Regions from separate parts of the Homo sapiens genome. Here regions 2, 3, 4 and 5 are each linked to region 1. The links come from fine-mapping of genetic effects on gene expression. A gene starts in region 1. Each other region holds a variant in brackets. All regions are shown on one strand. Distances are between the middles of the regions.

The links.
Region 2: its variant is fine-mapped to the expression of CYB5D1 in whole blood (TOPMed, PIP above 0.99).
Region 3: its variant is fine-mapped to the expression of CYB5D1 in whole blood (TOPMed, PIP above 0.99).
Region 4: its variant is fine-mapped to the expression of CYB5D1 in whole blood (TOPMed, PIP 0.96).
Region 5: its variant is fine-mapped to the expression of CYB5D1 in whole blood (TOPMed, PIP above 0.99).

Annotation. Positions count from the first base shown.
Region 1 is chr17:7,855,261-7,861,730 of GRCh38, forward strand. It overlaps CYB5D1 (cytochrome b5 domain containing 1), which reads left to right and starts at 2,743. Exons shown (of 4, transcript NM_144607.6): 1 at 2,743-3,034; 2 at 3,143-3,219; 3 at 3,346-3,564; 4 at 4,122-6,470. The coding sequence starts at 2,875. The coding sequence ends at 4,352. TMEM88 (transmembrane protein 88) reads left to right here. Exons shown (of 2, transcript NM_203411.2): 1 at 1-24; 2 at 185-839. The coding sequence ends at 454. NAA38 (N-alpha-acetyltransferase 38, NatC auxiliary subunit) reads right to left here and starts at 2,299. Exons shown (of 3, transcript NM_001320925.4): 1 at 2,123-2,299; 2 at 1,755-1,938; 3 at 1,425-1,583. The coding sequence starts at 2,203. The coding sequence ends at 1,471. RefSeq lists enhancers at 725-1,262, 1,384-1,463, 1,996-2,858, 2,114-2,483, 2,211-2,505 and 2 more.
Region 2 is chr17:7,877,608-7,884,077 of GRCh38, forward strand. It overlaps a transcript of NAA38 not described here. Among named protein-coding and RNA genes, the nearest start is that of CHD3, 7.9 kb to the right of the region's middle. The variant CTG/C (reference allele first, on the strand shown) is at 3,054.
Region 3 is chr17:7,916,656-7,923,125 of GRCh38, forward strand. KCNAB3 (potassium voltage-gated channel subfamily A regulatory beta subunit 3) reads right to left here. Exons shown (of 14, transcript NM_004732.4): 14 at 5,204-6,470. The coding sequence ends at 6,447. Among named protein-coding and RNA genes, the nearest start is that of RNF227, 3.6 kb to the left of the region's middle. The variant C/T (reference allele first, on the strand shown) is at 3,493.
Region 4 is chr17:7,793,505-7,798,504 of GRCh38, forward strand. DNAH2 (dynein axonemal heavy chain 2) reads left to right here. Exons shown (of 86, transcript NM_020877.5): 49 at 750-854; 50 at 2,960-3,148; 51 at 3,672-3,757; 52 at 3,896-4,026; 53 at 4,176-4,325; 54 at 4,653-4,820. Among named protein-coding and RNA genes, the nearest start is that of KDM6B, 38 kb to the right of the region's middle. The variant C/T (reference allele first, on the strand shown) is at 2,307.
Region 5 is chr17:7,885,695-7,891,031 of GRCh38, forward strand. CHD3 (chromodomain helicase DNA binding protein 3) reads left to right here and starts at 3,095. Exons shown (of 40, transcript NM_001005273.3): 1 at 3,095-3,406; 2 at 3,970-4,082; 3 at 4,877-5,047; 4 at 5,246-5,337. The coding sequence starts at 3,307. RefSeq lists enhancers at 158-207, 3,527-4,096 and a silencer at 1,958-2,117. The variant G/C (reference allele first, on the strand shown) is at 3,453.

The DNA of each region.
Region 1 (6,470 bases):
TTCGGCTTCCTCTGCCACTCTCAGGTGAGCGTGCGCCCCGGGGTGTGCGTGTGAGTGTGAGTGTTGGTGTGTGGTGATGCTGGCGGTGGGGTCTATGGGCCACAACTTCAACCCGCCTGGGCTGTTTCCACCCCGTGCACAGTATCGCCTGGTCGGCTTGGGCCTGACGCCTCTTCTCCCACAGTTCCTGCGCTCCCAGGCACCCCCTTGCACCGCGCACCTGCGGGACCCCGGTTTCACGGCCCTACTGGTCACCGGATTCCTGCTCCTCGTGCCGCTGCTCGTGCTTGCTCTGGCCAGCTACCGCCGCCTCTGCCTGCGCCTCCGCCTAGCCGATTGCCTCGTGCCCTACAGCCGAGCCCTTTATCGGCGTCGGCGCGCCCCGCAGCCGCGGCAAATCCGGGCCTCACCAGGGTCCCAGGCCGTTCCCACATCAGGAAAGGTCTGGGTCTAATGACCCTCGAGTCAAGAACAACCCTGACGGCTGCCCTCCCTCTTATTCGGCCCAAGGACTTGAAGCCCGGCATCTTCCGACCTGCCCTGCCCCCACCCCTGCCTGAGCGGAGTCCTAGCATCCCCTTGGGAGCAGCAGCGTCAGTGGACCCAGTGCTGAGAAAAGCCCCCACATCCCGGAAAACCCACTTTCCTTTCACGACCCACATCTCAATCCTGAACATCTAGGCTGGAACCTGCACACCTCCCCCTCAGCTCCGTCGTGAATGGGACAACAATCTCGTGCCCTCGTTTTATGGTGCAGCTTCTCTAGTATTTCTGGGGCTGGGGGGCGGGGCTGGAGGGGAAGGAGTGTCCACGCATCAATAAAGATTTAACGAACTGAACGCGCTCTGCGAACAGAGGCGTGGCACAAGTACTATCACCCCTGCCCTGTGCCGAGGAACAGGAAACATGTGCCAGGGCTACAAATGAGCAGAGAGGAGCATCCTTGAGCCCCCTGGCCTTATCGCTTTTGTCCGTTCTTCCTGGCCAGACCTCAGAGATCTGTTCCTGACCCCAGGCACCTCCCCCTCAATAGAGTGGAGGGGCCCAGCCTCGGCCGCCTGCCGCTGCTCCCCTTGGGGACCTGAGCCCGTTCTCTGACCCCAGCTTAGAGGAACTCGGTGTTGCCAGGCCGGGGTGGGAAACAATGGGCCTTCCGGAGCAGGATGACACCCCCTCCCGCCACAATTCTGGAGCAGCAGCCGTGGGAGGGAAGATGCAGGGGCCCACCCTGGGGCCTGTTGGTCCGTCATTCAGCCCTGCCCCCCATCTCTACCCCTGAACTTGAGAGAACCTTTGGCACCCCTGGACATCTTGGTTGGGAGAGGAGGGTTGAGGGTGCTCCCGACTTCAGATGAGCCCTTTCCTCTAGGGATGGGGTGTGCTATCCTGCACCGGCATCCCAGCTACACACAGACACAGGCCCATTCGGTCATAAGTTTAATGAAGTCTGAAAGGTAAGCGCCATCGTGGTCAGAGATACGGAGGCCCGGTCAGACTCTCCCTCTGCACCTCAATGGAAACGATGTGGTGTCCGGGTACCATGGCCAGGCCCAGCACACGGGGCTCCCCGGCAGAGAAGGAATCTGGAAAGAAGGATCAGAGCATCAGGAAAGTAGGCCAGAATCAGTCCCGCCCCTCTGAGCCACGAAAACGAGCCCCAGAAAACAAGGGTTGCAGCCAGGCCCTTAAGGGGAAATGCCTTGCGTAAGGTTCCGCCACATTACCAGGCGGGTGTGCATTCCCCGGGCACTGACCCGACGGCTTGAGGAACTCCTGCGCCGAGCCCAGGATGACATTGCAGTCACGGTCAGTGCAGAGGAAGCAGCCGACCAGTGTCCGTCCATCTGTCATGCGAATGCGCATAGTCTTGTTGAGCAGCGCCTCTAGCTGCTGTCGGGCGCGCTCAGCCGCCGAGTCCTCGCGCTCTCCGTCCGAATCCTGCGCGGGGTGTAACAAGCGCTCAGACCGCGCAGCCCAGGCTGCCCGCCCGCGGAACCACAGCTCCCGGCAGCCCGCGGGGCACTCACACAAAGCCCAGAGGCTGCCGGGAGCTGCAGTTCCCCACCCCCTCCATCTTGCTGCTTGACTGCCCCTCAGTCCCAGAACCAGAGCCCGTGCTAACCCCAGCACTGGAGCTGCTCTGACGCCGACTGCAACAGCCATTCTCTTCTCGTAGCAGCATGGTCGGTCCAGCTCCGGCCATTTGCCCGGAGGCCTCCTCTGGGCCTTTCAACTTCCTAAGCACCTTTCAGGTTGGGTGGTCCGAGATCTCGCGAGCGCTCCCGACCTCTTTCCTTTCGCGAGATCCCCTCTCCTCCCCCTCCTAGTCTCCTCGGCAACGGCACAGATCTCGCGAGCTTCTCCTACTTCTCTAGCGCTGTGGCTCACTGAAGCGTACTACGCCGGATGTCTTAAGATATCGCGAGACCTTTACCTCTGGTTTCTTACACATCCTTTAGAAACTGGAATTTAGCGAGAATACATTCTTTCATACTGCCTCCTCCCTTGTTTTTCTGTCTCAGAGAGATAGTCTGTCCTAAATATCCCATGTAGCCCAGGCCACTGAATTAAAACGGAGCGTATTCGTTCTCTGCCCCACCCCGCAACTCCTGAAAGCGGCGCAACTCAATTACTTGATCCTTATATGCCCCACGCGGGACTCATACTACGTTTCCCGTGAACACGTGCAGTCCAAACCCCGCCCCTGATATTTATCTCAGTGGACGGTGGCCGGAAAAGGACAATGGTTTCCATGTCAGCGGATAAACGCTCTCCCCTCGGCTCCCGGACGCGACGGAGGTCGTAGTAGTAGTGAGTACGTGCTGAGGAGCAAAGGAGTAACCAAGAGATCCAGTGACCGACAGAGCAAGAGCCATGCCGCGCCGGGGCCTGGTGGCTGGGCCAGACTTGGAGTATTTTCAGCGTCGCTATTTCACGCCGGCGGAGGTGGCCCAACATAACAGGCCCGAAGACCTCTGGGTATCTTACCTGGGACGCGTGTACGACCTAACGTCATTGGCACAGGAATACAAGGGTAAGGGCCACACGTTGGGCCGGGGCCGGAGTGTGTGTGTGTGCACGCGCGCGTTTGCCTGGTTCTCGAAGGGCTGGCATTGACAGTGGCTGTGCTGCTCTTTTCAAGGGAACCTGCTGCTGAAACCCATCGTGGAAGTTGCAGGCCAGGATATCAGCCACTGGTTTGATCCAAAGACCAGAGACGTGAGTTATGCTGGAACCTGGGATTGTGGGTAGAGGAAATGGAGAGCGGGGATGGGAAGGAAAGGCGGAGGCTAGCCAGAGCCTAATGGCTGCTCTGACACCCTCGCCCCAAACCCTCCTTTAAAGATCCGCAAGCACATAGATCCGCTGACCGGCTGCCTGAGGTACTGCACCCCGCGGGGCCGCTTTGTGCACGTTCCGCCTCAGCTGCCCTGTTCGGACTGGGCCAACGATTTTGGGAAGCCCTGGTGGCAGGGGTCGTATTATGAGGTGGGGCGGCTGTCTGCCAAGACCCGGAGCATCCGCATCATTAACACGCTCACGTCGCAGGAGCACACACTGGAGGTGAGAACTGGTGACAAGGAGCAGGTTAGAAGGAATGGGGAATCCCAGCAAATCTCCAGGCCGATCTTCAGGGCAACATTTTTTCCATAACCGGTGGGAGTGTATTTTCTGTCCTTTACATTGAGGCAACTGAGGAAAGCACAGCACCTAGGTCCCCAGGGTTGGGAATTCTAGGAGTGTCTGGGTCACAGGGGGACAAGAGACTCCTTTATAAGCCTGGGAACAGCAGTTCATGTATCTTAGTGATGGTGGTCCTTCGAAGCTCTTACACGCCGTTTTGGACAGCAATTGGACTTTCTTTTTAATCTACTCTGTTGCATGGATATAGTGAGGGGACAGTTGACCCTTTATGGCCATCCGGTAGTTAGAAGTGGCTGCCATTAAGATCTGTAGGACTTTAGGGTCTGCTCATTGCATGCTGGAGTTTCAGCTTTTTTTTCCCGGGGCCGTAGAGTACCTGAAGCTGCTATCTGCCAAGGGAGGCACTTTGATCCCAGCGTGTGTATATGTATACTCCATCCAGAATTCTGGGGGTGGGGTGCTTCTGTGTTCTCCAGGTGGGGGTTCTGGAGTCCATATGGGAAATCCTACACCGCTATCTCCCCTATAACTCACATGCTGCCAGCTACACGTGGAAATATGAAGGGAAGAACCTGAACATGGATTTTACCCTGGAAGAGAATGGGATCCGGGATGAGGAGGAAGAATTTGACTATCTCAGTATGGACGGTACACTTCACACACCTGCAATACTTCTGTACTTCAATGATGATCTCACGGAGTTGTAGGCAAGGAGATGTACACTCGTGTAGACTCAAGACGTATTTCGAGTTTGGCTTTTTCTGTGCCTTGAGGAAAAGTGGTGGGGCCGAGGGGTGCCTGGACCCAGATCTCCACTCCTCTCCAGGAGCTAGCCTGTGCCCTTCTGAAGTGTAAAGGCCCTATTCCCTGCCTTCATTACAGTTTGCTCTGAGAAAATTAGTGAATTAATCTTTGGGAATGATACAAGAAGATCAAGTACCTTGGTTTAGGGAGATGTAGAAGAGGATAGTCAGAGTTCAGGCAGAACTGTTTGATAGTTAAGAGAGAGTAGTTCTACAGGGGTGAGGGATGGAAGGACTTTTTTGGCAATGATGGAAATGAGATGTCTGCAGGAAGATGGGATTTACAAAGAAATAGGAAATGTTTATCATTGACCATACAAAGCTGGCTTATCTTACTTGTAGAAGAGTGTTTGGCAGCTGAAACCCAAGGGAAAGAAAGGAAGTGCGTCATTATAGGCAATTCAGGCTAGATATTATACTAGGTACTTCATATACCCTCTTTTTTTTTTTTGCCCCCAACAAAGAGAAGGGGTCTTGCTCTGTCACCCAGTCTGGAGTGCAGTGGCAAAATCATGGCTCACTGCAGCCTGGAGCTCCTGGGCACAAGTGATCCTCCCATCTCTGCCTTGAGTAGCTGGGACTTCAGGTGCACGCCACAATGCCTAATTTTTTAATTTTTTGTAGACACAGGGTCTCGCTGTGTTGCCCAGGCTGGTTTCAACCTCCTGGCCTCAAGTGATCCTCTTGCCTCAGCCTCCCAAATAGCCTCTTCAAGACAACTACCCCATAAGGTGGATTACCATTACTATGTTACAGATAAGTCCTTCGAAACTTTGGAAAGTTTAATAGCTCAAAGCCACACTAGGTAGTAACCACTAGAGCCAGAATGCAAATTCAAGTCTGCCCAACTCCAAAGTCCATGTTCTCTCAATATAAAGGGACCATCTCAATGTCTAATCTCATGTTAACATTTGTAGCCACTGCTCTCAGCAAGTATTTGGGATGTGGCTTTGTCCTAGGATCCCTGCACAATAGGAAATTGTGGTCCTATTGTATAGTTTGCAGTTATTGTCTCTGGAAGGGAGTTTGCAGAGTTCTCCTGTGGCGAAGAGGAGGCAAGGAAGGCTAAGTGTCAGTTAAGCAATAGCTATTGGGGCTACTTCTTTGTTAATCCCATACCCCAGATTTCTCTCCTGACCTTTTGGGGCAAAGAGGTGGGTATTTACTAACTTGAAGGAAAACTAGAGTGGGGAAAAGGCCGGCAAATTAGTGACACTTTGGCGAGGGAGAAAAAGGAGGCAGTTTGCCACTTGGAGAAGATGAGGAAGACAGGGTTGCAAGACGGTGACTCCAAAAGAGGGAGCTCGACAGGGGTAATGTAAACAGAGATGCTAACTAAGTCAGAAAACTCTCCTGGTGACCAAAAGAGAACCACTATTGGGGGTAATGGCTAGATTTGGTCTCCTTTAACTTAAGGAGGGGAGATTTGAGAATGACAGACAGTTGAACTTCCTGGCAGCAGCAAGCAAAAAACAAATCAGGAAGAGTTTAGTGTGTCTTCTGGCAGGGGACACCAGGGCCCAGCACAGGAGAAGGTGGCCCCTGTGAGATACTGGTGGGCTATATAGGCATTTTCTGAGGGGCTTTGGGAGGCATGAACAAAGGTGGAAACATTGCTGTTGGCTTCGGCAGTATCTGAATTTACTGTGAGATGGAGGGTTTAAATCTAACCCCATGGAATGCAGGAGTCCATGAATTATCTAAATCGATCATTTTGATCTTTAATCAACTCTGCAATTATGTGTACCTTGTTTGCTCAATTAAACCCTGAACTATTTGAGAATGAAAGCTATGCTGTTCCTCTAGTGCAAGCCTCAGGGCCTGTCCTGTGCCTACAGGATGTCCCCATTCTGCCAAAACCTGTCCCTCTTCCAGAGACTCCTACTTCAATGTCTCTTGCTAGAAACACATCCCTTTCCTCACACATCCAGTCACTCATCAAGTGTAATCTGTCTCCTAAATATCTCTGGAACCTATCTTCTTTTCTCCAAGTTACCATCACCTCTTGTCTAAACTGCTACG
Region 2 (6,470 bases), 22 kb after region 1:
AAACAGTGTTGTAATGAATAGCTCTGTAATGTCACCCTATGCATAAGTATGGTGACTGTTTCTCTATAATAAATGGTGAGAAGTGGAACTCTGTGTCAAAAAACACTAAGTTTATAAGTATAACACATACTATTAAATTGGCCTTGCTAGTTTTGTGGCATAGTTGTTATAGTTAATAACAGTAATATATGTGACCATCAGTTTCACATATTAGTGTCCTTTAAAACTCTAGGACATCTCATTGACTTAAAACTCATGTAGTATATAGTAGAAGAACACTAGATTGGAAACCGAAAGATAAAAGTTCAAGTCCTGGTTCTGTCTCTAACTACTAACTTGATCTTAGGTAATCCTTTCAATATCTAGGCCCCAGTTTCTATACCTATAAAATTAGATTAAAGTGATATTTTCTAAAATATGTACCTATATTATTAGTAGCATGCAAGATGCTTTTACTTTTATTGATTTTTATTTTAACAATATTGCATTTTAAATTAGAAAGAAAAACATAATTACAGTATCAAATTAAAGACTTATGAATATTATTTCTAGCAATATAAAATTTACCTTTTAAAGAACATTCATTTAAGTTAAAGAAAGGTGAGTGATTTAAAGAAAAATAGTATGCATATAATGGTATAGCTGATATATAGATATGGCAAATCATGAATATGATATATGAAGGACTGAAGTTTCCTCCTTGATAAAATCAAGAACAGGTTAGATTAAAGCAGTAAATCCTAGACTTTTAGATTTTAATGATCAATAAAATGTAAAAAAAAAAAAAGTTAGTGATCAACATGGGGTTGCTGACTTTTCATTGTGCTGAGTAAGGACATTAAGAACAACAAAATTCATAATCTCAGCACTGTGGGAGGCCGAGGCAGGTGGATCACCTGAGGTCAGGAGCTCGAGACCAGCCTGGCCAACATGGTAAAACCCCGCCTCTGCTAGAAATCCAAAAAATTAGCCGGGTGTGGTGGTGGCACGCGCCTGTAATCCCAGCTACTCGGGAGGCTGAGGCAGGAGAATGGCTGAAACCCGGGAGGCAGAGGTTGCAGTGAGCTGAGATCGCGCCATTGCACTACAGTCTGGGCAACAAGGATGAAACTACGTCTCATAAAAAGATATTTAAAATTATTTAAAATGTTGTATAATTATAAAAGAAGTACATGTTGAAAATTTTCAGATTGTACAGTAAGTATAAAAAGTCATTTTCTTATTCTTTTCCTCCCCCTTCCCCACTAAAATCTACTCACATTCTGCCATACAGATCTATCTCAGCTTTAGAAAGGAAGTTTTTAACATTATAAATATGTATATGTGTATATATGTTTAATAATATGTAACATAATTTATAACATAAAATATAAGCATATATACATATATTTATCCTATATAAATATACTGTATACTATATTTATTCTATGTAAAAATATATATCAGAAATATATCCTCTCAGAATAAAGGACAGACTTTTCCAGTAAAGGACATGTGGCAACCTTTCTTAGCCATTTGAGAACCACTGATTTATAAGACCTTCCATCTCTAAAATACTATGATTAGGTCTAGACTATCCTGAGTATTTACATGCCTTTCATTATTATCACTGACCTACATATTTCAAAAGACAATTAGGAATCTCTTTAACATATCCTTGGGTAGAAAATCATAGATTGCAAGTGTTTTTTCAGTCTTTTACTCTGCTTGTTGTATGAGTACATGTCTGTGCTCTATCACTGATTATCACTGGTTCCCTACATCAGAGTTTTAACCTGGGGTCCAAGACTTCAGGGTATTCGTAACACCGTGAAAACATATGTGACATTTTGTGTGTATTTTTTTTTTCTGGAGAAAGTTTCTAACTTTCTACGATCCTAAAAGGTTAGAAATTATTGCTTTAGATATGTTTCTTGCTTTTGCGTTAAATAATCTTATTCTTGGCTTGAGAGTCCCTTAAAAATTTTTCTTCATTTGCATTTCACAGCTGAATATTTGAGTTCTTTGTTCTCACCTTAATAGTCTTCTCATTAAAACAAAAAAAATATTCTCCTGTACCCATTAATCATAAGGAATTTAAATTTTTTATTTAATTTTTATTTTTTGAAGTACTGAAAGACAGAAGAAGGCAGAGACTGATGCCCCACAATGAAAGTGACAGGCAGGGAGACAAGCAGCTAGACAGTGAGACACACAGGCATAGATAAAAGGCCTAACGACAGAGAGACTACACAGGCAAAAGAAATATAGAGAAACCTGGAAACACAGAAGGAGAGATGCAAGAACTGAGCAGACAGAGAAGAGGGATGGCAGAAAAATAGGCTGGCAGGGAGGGAATGGAGATTGACTGACAGAGAAGGCAGGCAAAATCACCAAAAGGGATGCAGACAGGCAAACAGAGAGAGAGAGAAAGAGAGAAGAAGGGAAGACAGATAAAGGAAGAAAAAATAAGGTAAGAAGGAAGACAAAGTGATAATGGTGTTTTATACAACATAGTGCTTTATAATTTATAAAGTGCTATCACATACATTACTGCAGGCAGACAGGGAGAATCCAGCAGACAGATGGGGTGATGGAAGGATACAGGCCAATCAGACAGAAGAGAGGGGAGAGGGCCAATCAGAAAAAGAGGCTAGAATAGAGATCAAGACAGACAGATAAGAAGAAAGAACCAAGAAAAGAGAAGTAAGAGAGGGAAAGAGGGAAAGAGTGGAGAGACACAAAGATAGAGGCTGAAACAGTTAAACTCAGGAAAACAGGCAGTAAAAAAGCAGAAATGAAAGAACAGTGCATTGTGTGTAGAAGTTTTATTATCATCTTTTTCAAAGAGACCTGGTTAGAGGTTGTGTCTTTGTCTCCTTCAAAGAGTTATAAAATGTCTCTAAGGTGGCATGTGAGTGGAGCCAGAAGGCTTTAATCAGGAGAAAGCTTTTTAGACTAGGAGGAAGACAAACTTCTTAGGCCTAGGTCGACAACCTAAAGGATCTGGATTCACATGACCTTACAGAATTCATATAGACTAAGTGAGAAAGCAGGGCAGTCCTCTACCTACT[CTG/C]TGTGCATGTAAGCTCAGCTTACTGTTACTTATTAACAGTGCCTATATTTATAGGGTACTTTTTAGTACTACCGGTGCTTTCATGCCTTCTCCAATACACATTTCAGTGATGAAGCGACCAACAAAGATGTCTTGCTGGCATCAGACCACTTACCATGCAGAGTAGACTACATTTGGAGAGAGTAAAGCCTTCCTGAGCACTCCTCAAGTACTGGTAGTGAACGCATGCAACCAGTAACTAGTCAATCCAAAAGACACGTGCTTTGGGTAACACTTGGTAGAATCAAAAAGACCAGAGATGGCAAGCCCAGCCAAGTTAGTTAGGAGTACTGACAGACTGACAGAGGAAGGAGCATCCAGAAAAACTGGAAGAAAAGTAGGGAGGAGTACAGCAAAACACAAGCAAAAGCAAGCAAGCAAAAAGACTTGTATATGTGTAGACTTTTCTCTGGAGCAGTATCCAGGAAATGTGAAACAGTGGCTGCTTCTGAGGAGAGGAACTCCGGGACTAGGGGAGAAGGATGGGAGACAGGTTTACTTTTCACAGTACACTTTCTGTACTTTTAAAATGTTGTACCATAAGTATGTACTACCTATTTAGAAGTTAACTGGAAAAAGAAACAAAAGAAGAGAGAAAAGCAAGAAGAGACGTGGACAGCAAGAGCCTGCCAAGCAGACAGCAAAAAGGCAGGAAGGCAGCGAGAGACTGGGAAAATGGCAAAAAGACTGAGACAGGCAGACTGTCTGAGGAACCAGAAAGACAGAAAAAGAGATAACTGAAATAAAGGCAAACGTGAGAGAAGGCAGGGTAGGGGATGTGGCAAGAAGTTAGATAAGACTTTGAGGCAAAGGGGTTACTGAGAGGTTTAGGGGAGAGAGACTATCCTCATTGATGGAAGTTGGCAGAGAAGAAGCAAAGGAAGAAAAAGCTGGTAAGTATGAAGACTAAAGAGAGAAAAGCCTGAAACGGTGGGATAGCAGCAAACAGGGTAGACAGGCAAGAGAGATCTAAAGGGAGGCAAGGGAAAAGGAGGAACTTAACAGGCACAAATAAGAGAAGGAACAAGCAGAAGGGCAAGAGAAGAGGCAAACCAAGATGGGGAGCCGTGGCAGGGCCTGGAAGGTAGACAAACCGAGAGATGCAGGCTAAAAAAGTGATAGAGACAGGCAGGCGGGGAGACAGATGGCTAGAGAGAGAGTGGTGGGCAAACAGCCAGAGAAGCAGACAGACAACCAGAGAGGAAAAAGAGGCTGCCAGCCAGTCAGGGAGGAGCAGACAGGCAGGCAGGCAGACACCATAACAGGAGCAAGCAGGTAAAGAGGCAGAAATAAGGAGAGAAGAAGAAAAATCAAGAGGTCAGGAGAGAGAGAGAGAGAACAGAAAGAGATGCAGACAGGCAAAAGGGAGGATGGATGAGAGGGAGAATAAGGCAAATTAGCAAATCCACATGCAAAGCACACTCAAGAGAGAGAATGATGAGTGTTTGTATAGGGATGCACACGGCCACCTTTAGCCACCCGCACCTGCAGATCATGGCACATGTGGCAAGCAGAGGCTCTCAGTATAGGGAGAGGGCACAGAGGCAGAGAGGCTGCGGCGCACATGATGCGCAGTGTGGCCCACATACACGTGGAGACACTTCCCATACACAGTATGATCCACAGACACACACAGAAGGGGCCAGAAAGAGGGGGAGTCAGGCACACATGAGGAAGAGCCACACACAGTCAGAGACTGGAAGACAGAAGTAAGCAGAAAGAAGACAGAGATGGAAAGTCACGTAGAGGTGACAGAGCCTGAGGGTCCAAGGGATGAGAAGGATAGTCTCAGTTAAAAACAAAGACATAAATAGAGAGAAGCCCACAATATAGAAAGGGGGGGATAACCAGATGAACTAGTAAAGAGGGACAGAGAAAGAAGACAAGAGAGCAAAATCGACAGGAAAACTGGAAAAGGAGGAGGAGTTAGACTTAGTACAGAAATGATGTGGGAACCAAAGCAAGAGAATTCCAAAGGCCAGGTTAAAAAAAAAAGAGATGGAAACCAACACCCAATAAAGTGCATTAGTGTGGGGAGTGGAACATTAATAAAGAACATTTTAGCTTCATAAACAAAAATGTGCGTCATCTTCCCAGTCACTAATACTTTCTGGTTGCTGCCCACCTACCCCTCCCTCTCAGGGTGCTCCTGAGCACCGCCGAAGATGGGTGGCCAGCAGTTACACTGGAGAGGTAGAGGAATAACCCAGAGAGAAATGATTCCACAGGCATGGAATGGGAAGCAAGGGAAGGGGCAAAGGGAGATCAAAGGAATGGGAGGAAGCTAGAGTAAGAAAGGGTCAACAAGAATGAAAGAGGGTAGAACTGAGCTATTTGCCCTCCTTCCTTTGCTCCATTTGGCAAGGATCATTTTCTGTCTAGACCTCTCTGGGCAAATCTCTGTATGAGAAAGCTACTTTGGGACTCCTTTCCAACTGTCCAATTCCTGGTACCACTTTACCATAAACACTGGGGTACAGTTGGAAATCACAGGTCAGAAAGTTAGATGAAAACGCCTGGGTATAACCCCTACCTCTGCTTTTTCTCAGTTCCAGCTCCTTTCTCTTTCACGGTACCTCAGTTGCTTCTACTTTATCGGATAGTGTTGGAGATCATGGAGGGAAGGCAAATATACTGAAACGGAAGAAAAGAGAACATAATTTCACGATCTTCAGATTTGACTCTTTCCTCTTTATCCTAAAAATTTGTTGTTTACCCCCCAAATTAATTTCTCAAGTCAGTTGAATTTTACATTCTAACAATTGGAGGAGGGGAAAGCGAGGGAAAGGGGAAAAGAGTAAAGATAAAATTTATAACAATTATAAATCACTGAAAAGGCTGGGTAAAGGGGAGAATCAAACATGGACTCCTTTGAAAAAAACTCAATCATCGTATCTATTCATATCTCTCCCCCAAAAGTCACTAGGATTTCTATCACTTTTTTTAAAGAAAGCAGAAAAAAATCCAGTCCCGCTTCTCATTTAAAAGATATGTACACAATTAAATGCGTTGTGACTTCAATGAGGTATGTAGAAACAGAGTTATATATAAACATATATTTCATCTTTTTCCTTTTCAATGCCTGAAGGGGAAAAAAACCTTCACATCAAACCACTCCCTTCTGAAGTATTCAAAAAAAAAAAAGCTTTTCTTTAGAGAAGGGAGGTGGGGAGGAAGAGACTAGTAAAGAAAATAAAAAAAATTAAATCTAGTTGGACTAGTATCTAACTAGTTAACCTTTAACAATTTATGCTGATGTCAGACTGAGCATGAGTACTGATTAATGCCCCCCCTCAAATATTTTTTATAAGGGGGGAGTTAGTCACAGCAGCCATTTTTGTTTTATGCAGAAATCCTTCATGCCCCCCCAACACAC
Region 3 (6,470 bases), 61 kb after region 1:
CGCAGTTAGTTTCACAATCCCACCCAGTTTCCAAACACGGCCCGTTCTGCCCAACCTTTAGTGGTCCCTGGGCCTTTGAATCGATTTTGCCCTCAATTCTCATTATAGATGACCTCTCTGTGTTGTTTGTAAGGCTGGCTTCCTAAACTTCATTCTCCCCAAACTGCTTAACTCTCAGCTGGTATCTCAGCCTAAGGAGGGACCTAGATGCCAGGACCATGGCTTTAGGAATGCTGGGAATCCTTTCCTTCCGGAGGCCTGGACACCCACACATCGTGATGGCCCCAGCAAAGCTCCCCAGCATAAGTTCTGACTCAGGGGTCTGACTTCTCCCACTGGTAAACAGGACATGGTACTCACAACCCACATTCCCCTCATGGTGCCACACCCACACACAGCTGCCTCCTCACCCTCCTCTCCTGGACCTGCAGCCCAGGTTCTGTTATGGAGGGTGATAACACAGTCTAGAGCCAGCTGGCTTGAGTTCAGATCCTAGCTTCCACCTCTTACTAGTTGTGACACTTTGAGCAAGTTACTTAATTTCTCTGGGCCTTGGTTTCCTAGTTTTAAAAATGTGGATAATAATAATGAGGACTGAATGAACTTATATGTGTAAGGTGCTTCAAATGGTGTCCAGTACACAGTAAAACACCAGGTAAGTACTATATTAGCTACTATTGTTATCCTGTGCCCCCAGCCTATACTGAATTCACATTAACTTCTGAGTACCCAACATTTTCTTTTTTTTCTTTTTTTTTTTTTTTTGAGACGGAGTCTTGCTGGGTTGCCCAGGCTGGAGTGCAGTGGCACCATCTCGGCTCACTGCAAGCTCCGCCTCCCGGGTTCATGCCATTCTCCTGCCTCAGCCTCCCGAGTAGCTGGGACTACAGGCGCCCACCACCACGCCCAGCTAATTTTTTGTATTTTTAGTAGAGACGGGGTTTCAATGTGTTAGCCAGGATGGTCTCGATCTCCTGACCTGGTGATCCGCCCGCCTCGGCCTCTCAAAGTGCTGGGATTACAGGCGTGAGCCACCGCGCCCGGCCAGTACCCAACATTTTCAACACCCATCCATCTTGACCAATATGTGCATGATGAGCTTCTCCACACCCATGGCATTTACCAGCTATCACAGGCAATGCAAAGCTGGTTTTTAAACCTAAATTGTTAAAACCTAGAGGGTAATCTCTTTTGAGGAGGTATACCATCATTTTTAAGCAAACATTTCAGAACTTTTGAATGGTATTGTCTGTGATCATGGGAGAAGCTGTCTACTTATTACAGTGATGCTGTCACAATTCAAAACTTTTTGGTCTTAAAAAAGGACTGGTAGGGCCAGGCATGGTGGCTCTTGCCTGTAATCCCAGCATTTTGGGAGGCCGAGGTGGGTGGATCACTTGAGGTCAGGAGTTCAAGACCAGCCTGGCCAAATGGTGAAACCCCATCTCTACTAAAAATACAAAAATTAGCCGGGGGTGGTGGCTCACACCTGTAGTCCCAGCTATTTGGGAGGCTGAGGCACGAGAATTGCTTGAACCTGGGAGGTGGAGGTTGCAGTGAGCCGAGATCACGCCACTGCACTCCAGACTGAGCAACAGAATGAGACTCGGTCTCAAAAAAAAAAAAAAAAGGGGGAACTGGTAGGTATCTATTGTTAATAAATACATGATGGGCCGAGTGTGGTGGCTTACGCCTGTAATCCCAGCACTTTGGGAGGCAGAGACGGGCAGATTGCCTAAGCTTAGGAGTTCACGACCAGCCTGGGCAACACAGGGAAACCCTGTCTCTACTAAAATACAAAAAATTAGCTGGGCGTGGCGGCGTGCACCTGTAGTCCCAGCTACTCAGGAGGCTGAGGTGGGAGAATTGCTTGAACCCAGGAGACAGAGATTGCAGTGAGCTGAGATCGTGCCAGTGTACTGCAGCCTGGGCGACAGGGTGAGACTCTATCTCAAAAAAAAAAAAAAAAGCTTTTAATGTGGTGGTAGATTAATGGTGGCCCCAAATTCCTTTGCAATGTGACTTTGCTGCATCTCACATCAAGAATTGGGGTCTCTTTCTCTATCCCTTGAATCTGGGCTGGTCTTGTAACTAGTTTTGACCAATAGATGTGGCAGAAGTGATGTGTGAGTTCTGGAACCTAGTCCTTCAGAGGCCTTGTAGCTTCTGCTTTTGTCCCCTTGGAACACTCCCTGAGACCACCATGTGAGGATGAGGCCACACGGAGGAGCGCCAGCCAACAACCAGACATGCTGGTGAGGCCATTTTGCATTTTCCTGCTTGGCTCACCTGCCATTTGAGTGCAGCCACGTGAGTGAGCCTAGGTGAAAACAGCAAAGGAACTCCCAGCAAGCCCATAGAATCGTGAAAAAGAACAGTTTTTAAAAGTTATTTCTACTGAGTGTGGTGGCTCACACCTGTAATCCTAGCACTATGGGAGGCCAAGATGGAAGGATAACTTGAGCTCGGGAATTTGAGATCAGCCTGGGAATCGTGGTGAGACCCCATCATTACAAAAAAAAAGAAAAAAGCCAGGCTCAGTGGTGCACATCGTCCCAGCTACTCAGTAGGCTGAGGTGGGAGGATCACTTGAGCCTCAGGACTTCGAAGCTGCACTGAGCCGTGATCATGTCAGTGCACTCCAGCCTGGGTGACAGAGCGAGACCCCCGCCTCTTAAAAATAAATAAAAAGTGGCTGGGCGCGGTGGCTCACGCCTGTAATCCCAGCACTTTGGGAGGCTGAGGCAGGCAGATCACAAGATCAGGAGATCAAGACCCTCCTGGACAACAAGGTGAAATCCCGTCTCTACTAAAAAAACAAAAATTAGCTGGGCGTGGTGGCACGTATCTGTAATCCCAGCTACTGGGGAGGCTGAGGCAGGAGAATCGCTTGAACTAGGGAGTCGGAGGTTGCAGTGAGCCAAGATCGCCACTGCACTCCAGTCTGGCGACAGAGCGAGACTCCATCTCTAAATAAATAAATAAATAAATAAATAAATAAATAGTGGCTGGGTGTGGTGGCTCACGCCTGTAATCCCAGCACTTTGGGAGGCCGAGGCAGGTGGATCACCAGGAGTTCAAGACCAGCCTGGCCAAGATGGTGAAACCCTGTCTCTACTAAAAATACAAAAAATTAGTTGAGCATGGTGGCACTCGCCTGTAGTCCCAGCTACTCAGGAGGGTGAGGCAGGAGAATCGCTTGAACCCGGGAGAGGGAGGTTGCAATGAGCTGAGATCATGCAACTGTACTCCAGCCTGAGTGACAGAGCGAGACTCCATCTCAAATAAAATAAAATAAAAATAAATAAAAAGTTATCTCAGGCCATTAACTTTGGTGGTGATTTGTTGTGTATCAATAGATAACGGATATAGAGGGTTTCCTACTGTTTTTTTTTCCCTGTATGATAAATATATTTTTTGAGACAGGAGCTTGCTCTGAGCATCAGGCTGGAGTGTAGTGGCATAATCTTGGCTCACTACAGCCTTGATCTC[C/T]CAGACTCAAGCCACCTACCTACCTCAGGCTCCGAGTAGCTGGGACTACACAGGTATGAGCTACCATGCTCAGCTAATTCTTGTATTTTTGTAGAGATGGGGTCTCCCCATGTTGTCCAGGCTGGTCTTGAACCCCTGGGCTCAAGTGATCCCACCTGCCTTGGCCTCCCAAAGTGCTTGGATTACAGGTGTGAGCCACTGCGCCCAGCCTAGATAAATATAACATTGTAATGTGCCCTGTAAGTCCCTGTGTGTTCTGAACTTACCCCTTCCTTCCTTCCTTCCTTCCAGACAGAGTCTTGCTCCGTCGCCCAGGCTGGAATGCAGTGGTGCAATCTCAGCTCATTGCAACCTCTGCCTCCTGGGCTCAAGTGATTCTCCTGCCTCAGCCTTCTGAGTAGCTGGGACTACAGGTGGGTGTCACCATGCCTGGCTAATTTTTATTTTTATTTTTATTTTTTATTTTTAGTAGAGATAGGTTTTCGCCATGTTGGCCAGGCTGGTCTCAAACTCCTGACCTCAAGTGATCCACCAGCCTCAGCCTCCCAAAGTACTGGGATTACAGGCGTGAGCCACCGCACCCAGCCATTACCCATGTCTCACTTTCTGTTCTGTTCCTCTCTAGACACTCTGGCTTTGGGTACTTTTGGCTTGTATGTTCTTTTCTGCCACAGGCCTTAGCATATGCTCTTAACCCTCTTGCTTAACCCTTATTAACACCTATTCATGCTTCAGCTCTCAGCGTAACCTCACCATGTCAAATAACCACTACAGACTCAGTAATACCATGTGCTTTCCTCTGGACTTTGGACAAGAAGTTTGTATTTATTTGGTGGTTCTGTGATTGTCTCTCTCCTCAGCAAGATATATGAAGGTTCTGAGTCTGGTTTTGTTCACCCTTGTATCCCTGTGCTATACCATAATAGGACTCAATAGACAAATACTTGCTAAATTAATGAATGAGGTGGGTGATAAATATGGCAAATGTCCATATACAAAGGAGGCGTGACAATAAAGGAAGGCTTTTTTTTTTGTTTTTTTTTTTTTAAATCAAGGCGTTTCCAAACTCTCTCTGAAGGTAATTCTAGGAGGAATGGTGTTTGTTTGTTTTTAATATTTTGAGCAATGGGACAGGTTCATTAAAATAAGTGTATAACCCTCTAAGATAACTATTTAAGGAGAATCCTATTTGGGATTGATAAATTCTCGTATGTTACAGAATAACTAATCATAGTTTAGTAATATATTTTACTTCTTTGTTTCCTCCACAGTCTTGCAAAATGAGTGGGAGATGATGGGGTGGATTTAAGTATTAATTAGTTGATGCAGTTGGCTGCTAATCCAGTAAATGGCATGCTGCTGACTTTTCTCTTTTGGAAATTGGTTTTACTTTGCTTGCCCAGCTTTTGGATCAAGGCGGGATGAGGACGGGTAGAAGGGAGATGGGCAGGTTGTATTTAAGGAAGGCAGAGCTCATCCTCCTCTACCTTGTGATCTTTAAGGTTGTAACTTTCCACCCAATTCTGTTCCAGTGAAATGATAACATCTTTCCTTCTCTCTGTATTCCCTCAACCTCAGACCATTCTTCACTTTACCTCTCCACCAAATCACAAAGCCTCAACCTCAGAACAGCATCTCCCCCTCAGCCACAGGTTCCTTGGCATATGTGTGGGTGTCCAGCGAGAGAGAAATGAGAAGTACAAGGAACAAGTATGGCTAATATTACTTTAAATACAAACAAATAAAGGCAGATAGCTAAGTCTTTCATAGAAAGAGGAGGAACAAAATTATGAAGCCAGATTTCTGGGTTCTAAGGAATGTGGTAGCTGAAGGAAGAAAACTGGGGCCTGGGGTATCTGGTGTCTTGGTCCTTGATGAGAACAGTGACTAGGAGCCCGATGCCTGGGTCACCAAGGTGAATGAGCAATGGAGAGAAAGCTAATGCTAGCAGATTTCTAATGTTAGGGGGCGAGAGGGCCAGACAAGTGAGACTGTGACCCTAACCTCCCAAGCCCCTGCAACTTTAGACACTGTGAGGATCAAGCTGAGGTTTATTTACAGTTACCTGGGAAGTCTTACAGAGAAGGGGCCATCATTATTGCTTTAGGTTTATTGCCAGGAGGAAGACTGCAGTTCCCCACTGCCAGGTAGGAGGCCCTGCTCAAGGCTCAAAAGTCTATACCCAGACGTTTTATTTATTTATTTTTTTTAAATCAAGGCGTCCCTGCCCGTGACGGAAAGGCTGTCACTAATTCCTGCCAAGAACAGCCCAACTGTTTTCCAAGGACCACCCCGGCCACTTTCACCAGACTGCAGCGTAGATGTGCTATTACATTTCCCTCTACCTTTGTCAGTGCTGTGCCACTGTAGACCCCACCCTGACCGCCCTCCTCCACCTCTGGGCTGGGAGGCAGGGTCCTGGTTTCCCAAAGATTATCATTTACTTCCTGCCAGGACCAGCCTGGCTTCCTTCGTACCGAATACGCTAAGAGCCCCATTTCCTATGTTCCAGATGACATCACAACTCACTCACTAGGTTATTACCCTTTGATGACATTTCAAGGGCCCCTTTTGAGGTACACTGTATGTTTCTTGTATGTGCTGGGTTTTTGTTTTTGTTTTCTTTTCTGGGCCTCGGGAATAAGGGGAGGAGAGTAGGGAGCGAGACGAAGTGGCAGAGAGCCGACGGCGAGTAGCTCATGCCCGGGATTTGCAAGAAGGGCCTAGAAAGACGCAGCAGGGGGCGGGCGTGCTACTTTCTCTCTCGACCCCACTGCAAAAGGATATGGCTTTGTTCATGCGTATCACTACTCGAAGCCGGGACTCGTTGGTGGGCGGGGCTAGTCTGGCTCCGGCCGCTGCGTGGAGGGATCCGGAGCGGGAGAGGCGGCTGCGAGGAGCGGGGCTCGGGCGGGTGCAGCGACACCGGGTTGGGTCCCTGCGCCCGCGACAGACTACTTCTTGGAATGCGGCTTGTT
Region 4 (5,000 bases), 62 kb before region 1:
TTCTTTCTTTCTTCTCTTTCTCTTTCTTTCTTTTTCTTTCTTCTCTTTCTTTCTCTTTCTTTCTTTCTTTTTTTCTTTCTTTCAGACAGCATCTTGCTATGTTGCCAAGGCTGGGGTGCCGGGTTAATTTTATGATTTTTAGTGGACACAAGGTCCCCATATGTTGGCCAGGCTGGTTTTGAACTCCTGGGCTCAAGAGATCCTCCCATCTTGGCCTCCCAAAGTGTTGGCATTACAGGCCTGAGCCATGCTCCCGGCTGCTTCTCTTTAATCAGCGGCCATCGCGGCCTGGCTCCTGGGGTTGTTTGTGTGTATATCTGGCACTCAGGGCCAAAAACTCGCCTAGTGCTATATTCATGTGTGTTTGAGAGAGAACATACACACACACGTGTATAGATAGGTACAATTTTAAAAGAAGAAAAAGAGAAAAAGAAGAAAGAGAAAGTCTAGAAGACACAAATGTTTTTTTACTTACCTGTATTTTCTCATTTGGGTACATGGATTATAAGGATGAAATACAGACAAATGCATTCCTGGTACTAAAATAAGTTTCCCATGTCCCTTCCTTCTCTTCCCCTCCCCCTGCCCTACCACTCCATGTTCCTCTCAACTCGCTGCATCCCGGTTCCTCTTCCCCTTTGTCCCTCCTCGCACTGTTTTCCTCCCACTCCTTTTCACCTGGCCTGTGTCGGCGCCTCTCTTGCCCTCTCCCCTCCTGCCTGTCTGCCCTCCTTGTCGCTGCTCTCTAGGAAATGTTCCTGATGGCTGCCATGGGCCCCCCTGGGGGTGGACGGACTGTCATCTCCCCAAGGCTACGGAGTCGCTTCAACATTATCAACATGACCTTCCCCACAGTGAGGACCTCATGGGGGCTGCAGGACGAGGGGAGGGTAGGAGGTGAAACGTGTCTGTCTCAGAGAAGCAGGGGCCAGATCCCAGGGGGCTGCGGCACCCCAAGTGGAGCTCCACGCAGGACGCTGGGACGATCCGTAAGGGCATGTGCTGGCTCCTGAGCTAGGAGAGCTACGGGTTGGAAGCGTACCTTCCTGGCTGTGGACAAGGAAGCCTTGTAGTCCCAATGGGCAGAGAACACAGTGAAGCCCAAGTAGACTAAGGAAGGTAGATCCTACAAAGCCCACGGCAGTGTCAGGATTAGAGCCAGGCCAGCAAGTCACTTGTCTCAGTGCAGAATTTAAGGGGGCACCCAAAAGACTCTGTAATCAGGAGAAATAATATGTTAACACTTCCTTTTTTTTTTTTTTTTTTTTGAGACAGGGTCTCACTCTGTTGCCCAGGCTGGAATGCAGTGGCATGATCTCAGCTCACTGCAACCTCCACTTCCCGGGTTCAAGTGATTCTCCTGCCTCAGCCTCCAGAGTAGCTGGGACTACAGGCGCCCGCCACCACGCCCAGCTAATTCTTGTATTTTCAATAGAGACAGAGTTTCGTCATGTTGCCCAGTCTGGTCTCAAACTCCTGGACTCCAGAGATCCACCAACCTCAGCCTCCCACCACACTTGGCCTCACTTTTTTTTTTCCTGTCTATGACATTTTATTGATCCTATGGAGTGGGAAGGAGAACTGGAGAAGTATGTGGGGCCAAGGGATCCCAGGGGAACAGGGAAGGTATTGAGGCTTGGCCACTAGTACTGGCGAGTCTGTAGTAATGCAATATTTTTTAAAATTAAAATTAATGCCAATAATTTATGATGAGCAAAATACCACCATTTTGAATAAATACAAAATCAGTAGAGTACAGTGCTAAGCCATATTGGAGCCTAAGGGGAAAGGAGAAATCAGTAATCCCCATCTGGTCTTTATTTTAAATGTTTGTGTTTGTTCCTCATGAATATTTTGCATTCATTTTTGTTTTTAAATACTGTGTTGGCCAGGCACGGTGGCTCCCAGCTGTAATCCCAGTACCTTAGTAGGCTGAGGCAGGTGGATCACTCGAGCCCAGGAGTTTGATATCAGCCTGAGCAACACGGGGAAACCCTGTCTCTACAAAAAAATACAAAAATTAGCCGGGTGTGGTGGTGCACACCTGTGTTCCCAGCTACTTGAGAGGCTGAGGTGGGAGGATTGCTTGAGCCCAGGAGGTCGAGCCTGCAGTGAACCATGATTGCACCATTGGACACCAGCTTGAATATATATATATATAATATTTATATATATATATTTATTTTATATACATATATATATAGTGTTAAGGCTGGGCGCAGTAGCTCTCGCCTGTAATCCCAGCACTTTGGGAGGCCAAAGCAGGTGGATCACCTGAGATTGGGAGTTTGAGATCAGCCTGACCA[C/T]CATGGAGAAACCCTGTCTCTACTAAAAATACAAAAAATTAGCTGGGCGTGGTGGTGGACACCTGTAATCCCAGCTACTTGGGAGGATCAGGCAGAGAATTGCTTGAACCCGGGAGGCGGAAGTTGCAGTATAAATAAATAAATAAATAAATATAAATATGTATAAATATATAGTATATATATATATAGTGTTATATAATAGTATTTGTCAGTTGTCTTATTTCTGAGTTTAGGATTTTTTTTTTTTTTTTTTTTTTGAGACAGAGTTTCACTCATTGCCCAAGCTGGAGTGCAGTGGCACGATGTTGGCTCACCGCAACCTCCGCCTCCTGGGGTCAAGTGATTCTCCTGCCTCAGCCTCCCAAGTAGCTGGGATTAGAGGCATGTGCCACCACGCCCGGCTAATTTTATATTTTTTAGTAAAGACGGAGTTTCTCCATGTTGGTCAGGCTGGTCTCGAACTCCCGACCTCAAGTGATCTGCCCGCCTTGGCCTCCCAAAGTACTGGGATTACAGGCATGAGCCACCGTGCCCGGCCCTAGGATTTTTTTTGACACCCCCTTAAATTGTGCCCATGAGCCAAGCTCTTTATTGGCTTCCCCTCTGGCTAGAAGGCCAGCAGCCCTGGAGAGTGAGCCAGGGTCTGTTTCTAGAAGTCCCAGATCATCCGCATATTCGGCACCATGATCAATCAGAAGCTTCAGGACTTTGAGGAAGAGGTGAAGCCCATTGGGAACGTGGTGACAGAGGCCACCCTGGACATGTACAACACCGTGGTACAGCGCTTCCTGCCCACGCCCACCAAGATGCATTACCTCTTCAACCTTCGAGACATCTCCAAGGTGACTCGCGGCCTGACCTTGCCCCTTCTGCTTGGCCCAGCCTCCGCGGAGGCTTTCTCTTCTCAAACTAAGCCTTAACACTCACTAGCATGCGCACCAAAAGTCACCCCCATGCTGAAGTGCCACACTCCCTGGCCTTACCTTTAAAACTTCTGGGCCAAGTGCGGTGGCTCACACCTGTAATTCCAGCACTTTGGGAGGCCAACGCAGGCAGATCACCTGAGGTTAGGAGTTCAAGACCAGCCTGGCCAACATGGTGAAATCCTGTCTCTATTAAAAATACAAAAAAAAAAAAAAAAATTAGCTGGGCATGGTGGCACGCGCCTGTAGTCCCAGCTACATGGGAGGCTGAGGCAGGAGAATTGCTTGAACCTGGGAGGCAGAGGTTGCAGTGAGCTGAGATTGCACCACTGCAGTCCAGCCTTGGAGACAGAGTGAGACTCTGTCCCAAAAAAAAAAAAAAAAAAAACTTCTGGAGGGAATCTTTTTGCTCCCTGGTCCCAACAGTCAGTCCTCTTCCCAGGTGTTCCAGGGCATGCTTAGAGCCAACAAGGACTTCCATGATACCAAGTCCAGCATCACACGGCTCTGGATCCATGAATGTTTCAGGTGACATGCATGTGCCCTGGCCAAACGAAGGCTTCCTCAGCCTTGCTCCCACCCCTACTTTGTTCCCAGCCTGACACTGCCTTCCCCAGGCCATTCTCCTCTTTATTCCCCGATCTCACCCCAGTTCCCTGCCCACAGAGTCTTCTCTGACCGGCTGGTTGATGCGGCAGACACAGAAGCCTTCATGGGCATCATAAGCGACAAGCTCGGCTCCTTCTTTGACCTCACATTTCATCATCTCTGTCCCAGCAAGCGTCCTCCTATCTTTGGTGAGCCAGGAGCTGTGATGACCTTGGGCTTGACACTCTTAGAACATCGGGGCTAGAAGGAGTCAGGGCATGGGGTCTGAAGTGTGGAGCCCTGTGGGGGGAGGCAAACCAGGCATTTGTGACTCTGATCCCCTCTTCCCATGGCTCAGGGGATTTCCTGAAGGAGCCCAAGGTGTATGAAGACCTCACGGATCTGACAGTGCTGAAGACAGTCATGGAGACAGCTCTAAATGAGTATAACCTGTCACCCTCTGTCGTGCCCATGCAGCTAGTGCTCTTCCGAGAGGCTATTGAACACAGTGAGCACCTGCCACGCCTATCCCCTTCCCCATCATCTCAGTGATGGGGTATGTCTAAGGAAATAGGGGTCCCTTCCCAGGTCTCCCAAATCAAGTTCCAGAAGCTGCCTTTCTCCCTGGCCCCAGATGCCCTGTGGCAGTGTGTGTTTAACAGAGAAGGTGGAGGTTAAAAGTTGAATTGCCTCCTGGGCCTTGGGCACCAACTTCTTCTCATACCTCTTGGTTCCTCTGCTTCAGTTTCAGGGGCCCCAATCCCTAGCCTAGGGCCTGGAGGTCCCCTGAGTTTGCTCAGCCAACTCATTACCCTCACACCCACCCCACCCCCAGTCACACGGATCGTGCGGGTCATTGGACAGCCTCGGGGCAACATGCTCCTGGTGGGTATCGGGGGCAGCGGACGCCAGAGTCTGGCCCGCCTGGCTTCATCCATCTGCGACTACACCACCTTCCAGATCGAGGTCACCAAACATTATCGGAAGCAGGAGTTCCGAGATGGTACGGCTGGGTTTCTGAAATGCTAGGAATAAAAGATCAGATGCATACATTCCTGCAGTGACAAGAGAGGAGAGATGGCAGCCAGATGGGCAGACGTGTCTGGCCCGTGTTGGGTGTAGGATGGTGTCGCGTGTATGCTGCGGGGCGGGGAGGGTTCCTAAATCTCAGAAAAGGAATCAA
Region 5 (5,337 bases), 30 kb after region 1:
GGGGACGGTGTCCATCGGACCCCCCTCCACCCGCGGAGACTTAGGTGCCCGCCAACTGAGGGGCATGCGGTGGCACGCGAGGGAGGGGTCTTGTGAATGTTTGTGGGCTGCTGATGAGTAGGGGCAGGTGGTGGCCACAGTCCACGCAGACCACTTCCTGGAATAAGGCAGGAGCTCGTCCCCTCGCTCCCCCAGCCTGTGCAGGGACAGCAGTCCATTCGGATTGGGGAGCGGAGAGAAGAGTGTCTGGGGAACCAGATACCCCCGGCTCCACCCCCTTCATCTCGCCGGGGCTCTGGGCTCTTTTGTGTCAAGTGCGGTGGGGGGGGTCCCCCTCTTGACCCCGTCAGTCTGGGGTGGCCAAGCTGCCCAGCTGTGACTCTCACGTGGCTGCCATTCACTGTCACTCACTCTCTCGCTGAAACCACCCACTCCCTGAGCACGTTGGGGGGCGTGAACTGCCCACCCAGCTGTTCTGCAGCTTGACCATCACTCAGCACCCGTCCCCCGAGGTGACAAGTCACCCGGCGGCACTCTCTGGGCGGCGCTCTCCAGACCGCTGCGCCGCGTCAGGCGCCCAGCGGTGTCCCCCTCAGACCACCCTCCTAGTGGAGTGATTTCTAGTCTTCTTTGGGATAGGTGAGCATCTGGGTGTCCACACCCCCTGCTTGGGGAACAGCAGGGGGACCTCCGCACCCCCGGGCCTCTGGCTGCCATGCGGCACAAATGCACCAAACTTCAAAACGGCCAACTCCGGGCTCTTTGTAAAACTGTCATATTGATCCGTGTGGCTTCTGTGGCAAACGTTCCTGTCTAGCCGAGACGACCTTTGGGGGAGCGGGGGGTGCTTTCTTGTGGGTCGGGGAGGGATGTGTGTCTCCTGGAAACTGGATAAAGTCTCCCCGCCCCCCAAGCTTGTCTGAAAAAGGGTAAAGTTTTGAAAAAGTTCTCCCAGAGAGCCCCCTGCCTTGGCAGGAGGAGGAGGAATGAGGAGTTGTGGGGAGAGGGTGCCTTTGGGGTTGCCTCCGGCAGAGGCGCTGAAAAGAGGGAAAGAAAGGCCGTCAGGTCCTGCCAGGGGCTTGGCAGCGCTCACCTATTTGTATTGGGACTTGGAGTCTGGGGTGGGGTGGTGTGGGTCCCGGATCTGGGTACGTTGGGGAGAGAAGCGTGAAAGGATCCGAGGTTGAGATGGGTCTTTGTGTCAACCCGGCCTCCCCTTTCCCTCTTGGCTTTCTGAATAGACCAGAAGAGACGTCAGAGGCTGCTTACATTTTACAACTGAAATGAAAACCCACCTCCCCTCTCCCCCTGGGCAATTTTTATCTCCCTTTCAGCCCTCCAAGTCGAATGAGTGACCCAGATACACCCCCTCAGATGACTTTCGGAGGTAAAACTTCGGGAAATTATTTTTAGCACACTCATTATTTCTGTCTACCTAAGTGTGGGGAAAAGAACCCTCCTCTAAGGAAATTTGTTCAGGCTGCCCTCGCTCTTCCTTGTCTAGAGTATGCATTTGTGCACAGGAGAGATTTCCATTGTTTTCCATTCCGACTGCTTTGATTCTCACCATTTTGTTTTACATTCTTACTCAAGACCAATTTTATCCCTTCCCCCTCTCTCCAGTCTCCTTACATTGTTAAACGTTTAAAATAATAGCAGTCGTGTTGGTGGGGGAAGGGAGCAGGAAGCCAAAAACTCATTTCTTCTCCCTCCCCCTTCTGGCAAGTCGAGAGAAATAATATAACATAATATATAGATGTGATTCCTTGGGGGTGGGGGTGGGGAATGATTGTGGGTGGTGCGGAAAATTCTGGTAGTTTCTTTGCAAAAGGTCTGAAAATACAAACCCACCCCCTGCCTGCAGTACGCATGTGCAGCAGACCTATTATGGTGGTGCGTTGTGGGGGAGGGAGGGGAATTTGAGAAAAAATAAATATATGTGTGAGAGATTGATGGTGAGATTAGAAGAAGAGAGGGGCGGGCGGGAGGCGAGGCTTCGGCCGAGACTCCTCCCGCTTGCTCGGGCGGCCAGGCTCCGCCCTGCGCCCTCCGGCCCCCGCCTCTCTCCTCCCTGCCTCCCTGAGATCCGAGCCGGGGATGTGGGAGAGTCTGGGCTCCAGGCCAGCATTGAGTGGCTGCTGAGACCGAGGTTGGGACTTAGATTTGCTTTATTACCCTTCCTTGCTTTTCCTTGCCGTTCTCGCTTTGCCTCTCCCGCCACCGACGCCTGCCCAAGTTCGGGAACCTCCCGCTGGGGTGGGGAGTAGAGTGAACCGGCTTGTGCACCACCCCTGGCTGGTGGTGGCCGAGGCCGTGTCCCTGAACCTTAGCCAGTTGGCCTGCCCTTGCCACTGCCTCGGCAGCCTGCGTTTCCATGTTCAAGTCAACCGAAGTCCCTGGGGCCAGGGGGAGCCGGCTGCTGGGGCATGGCGCCTTCCTTGCTGACTTCCTATTACAGTCCCCATTCCGTTTCACACCCGGGCTCTGGCAGCCACCCCCCTGCACACACGCACACAGTCCTAGAGTGTCTTCCTGCACAAGGGGACACAGGATGCTGGAGTTAGCAGGAAAGGTGGCACTGAAGGAAGGCGAGGCAGCGACTCTGAGGCAGTGGAAACGGAGGCCTCTGGTGTTAATTGTGGCTAATTTTCCGTTGGCTGTTGAGGGAAGGAGAAAGGATTGTGTGTCCTAGAGCTAGGGGCTGGGCCAAGCCCAGGCTTTCCCATCTTGCATCGGCTGCCTCTCTCTGTACTAGACAGGTCTGGCTGGTTAGTCTAGTGCTTGGTAGGGGAGGGACGTGAACCAGAGCCCCAGGGCCCCAGGTCTGTGGGGCATCCTGTCTTCCTTTATGTGGGGTAACTCTCCGTTCCGTTCCCCAAGCCTTCACAGAGTGACACCTTCACAGATAATGGGGTGGGGGGCCTGGGGTCCTCTGGCAGAGACATCTGGGGAGAAAGCCAGGGACCTATCCCTGCTGAAGCAGGTACAGGCCATCCTCTGGATTTGTGGGCCTGAGAGTGTGTGTGGGTGTGGGTGCGCGCGTGCGCGCGCGTGCTTTTGAGAAGGCATATGCTGGGTGTGTCTGTCTGTGCCTATATCTTTGTTTGGGTCTCCCATACTGCGTATAGATGAATGGGTCAGGATATCTGGAACAAAATATGGAGGTGAAGGGTGAGATCGGGAAACAAAGGGTATGGCCCCCTAGTTCCCAAAGGGAGCAGGGAGATGGGAATAGAATTGAAGGTAGGTTTTAGGCTACTTGGGAGGAGGAATATTTAGGTAATTGTGGAGACTTTCTCCTGTGTGATGAAGGCGGCAGACACTGTGATCCTGTGGGCAAGAAGTAAAAATGACCAGCTGAGGATTTCTTTTCCTCCAGGACTGTGTTGGGGTGACAGGATGCCTGGTAATTATCCGAGGAAATGTAAATAGAGGCCTCCCTCTTGGCAAAA[G/C]GATGTCAGGGCCCCAGGGTGTTAGTGTGAGAACCCAGGTGTCCACCTTTGGCTCTCCCTCCCCAGCATCTGGCTTAGGGAGCTGCCAGCTTGTGTCTCCCCACTCCAAGTGCTGGGGTCAGGCCAGGCCAGCAGCTGGGCATGGCTTCCCCAGTTCCTGGGCAGGATGCCAGCTGGCGAAGTGAGGGGGAAGGCAGGAGGAGCCCTGGCGGTGACTGAAAGGACCTGCCACAGTCAGAGCCCATGGCCTGGAGCCTGGTCTCTTGTTAGTAGGAGGGGAGGGAGGGGAGTGGTTTGGCTGCTCTTCTCTTCTGACCCCTGACCTCCCATTCAGAACCAGAGCATCCCAGAGTACTCGAAACACTTTCTGTTTGCATCCAGTGAAGGGAGGCAGGGCTTGGAGGAGTTAATGCTTCCTAGAGAGTGGGAACTGCCGAGGTGGGGAAGGGGCAAGTTGAGGGGCCTCAGAGGCTGGAAACCTAGAGGCTTAGGTTTTCTGATGCTTTTTGCTTCAAAGATAAGGATGACATTCGGCTGCTGCCGTCAGCATTGGGTGTGAAGAAGAGAAAACGAGGACCCAAGAAGCAGAAGGAGAACAAGCCAGGAAAACCCCGAAAACGCAAGAAGCGTGTAAGTGTCAAGAATTCCTAACTCTGTGGCAAGGCTCAAGAGACCCATTCTCAGAGACCTACATTTTCTCTGGTCCTGATTACTGGTGTGGGGGTGGGGTTCTGAAGCCAGGGAGGCTTGATCCCCCGGGCCCCCCACTTCCCTGCCACTGTTGGCCTGTATCTCAGGGATCTGGGACCCTAACTTCATTCACTGCAACCTAGTGAAGAGCCTCGTTGTCAGTGTGTCCTCAGCAGCAAAGAGAAGCAGTTGAAAGCACAAGCTCTGGAAGACTGTATGAATTCAAGAGTCCAGCATTCCTCTGTCTAGGATACCAGGCCGTTTATTTGGCTCTCTGTGCCTTAGTTTCCTCATCTGTAAAAAGTAGATAAAGGCCGGTTGCAGTGGCTCACGCCTGTAATCCCAGCACTTTGGGAGGCTGAGCCGGGTAGATCATTTGAGGTCAGGAGTTCGCGACAAGCCTGGCCAATGTGGTGAAACTCCGTCTCTACTAAAAATACAAAAATCAGCCGGGCGCGGTGGTACGTCTGTAATCCCAGCTACACAGGAGGCTGAGGCAGGAGAATCGCTTGAACCCGGGAGGTGGAGGTTGCAGTGAGCCGAGATCACGTCAGTGCACTCCAGCATGGGTGACAGAGCAAGACTCCATCTCCAAAAAAAAAAAGGAGATAAAAAATTAGTTACTATCACAGGATTGTTGTGAAGATTAAAAGAGGTAAGATATGGTATGTGCTGAGAACAGTTTCTGGCAATGGTAGGGATGAATAAATGTTATTTTTATTTCTTTCTCTTAGGACAGTGAGGAGGAATTTGGTTCTGAGCGAGATGAGTACCGGGAGAAGTCAGAGAGTGGGGGCAGTGAATATGGAACCGGACCGGGTCGGAAACGAAGAAGGAAGCACCGAGAAAAAAAGGAGAAGAAGACAAAGCGGCGGAAAAAGGGGGAGGGAGATGGGGGGCAAAAGGTGAGTAGAATTAGGGAATGAGAGTGAGAAATCTGCATTAAAGACGGGCATGAGGAGGGGAGGAATGGAGACTGGACTGGAGAATGGGGCAAGAAGCAAGAAAGCCCAGGGAAGCTAGTGGGTAGGTAGACAGGCCTGTGTGCGGCCTGGAATAGGGGCTGGAGGAGCACCTACTTCACCAAAGCCCCTCTCCCGCAGCAAGTGGAACAGAAGTCATCAGCAACTCTGCTTCTGACCTGGGGCCTGGAGGATGTGGAGCATGTGTTCTCTGAGGAGGATTACCACACGCT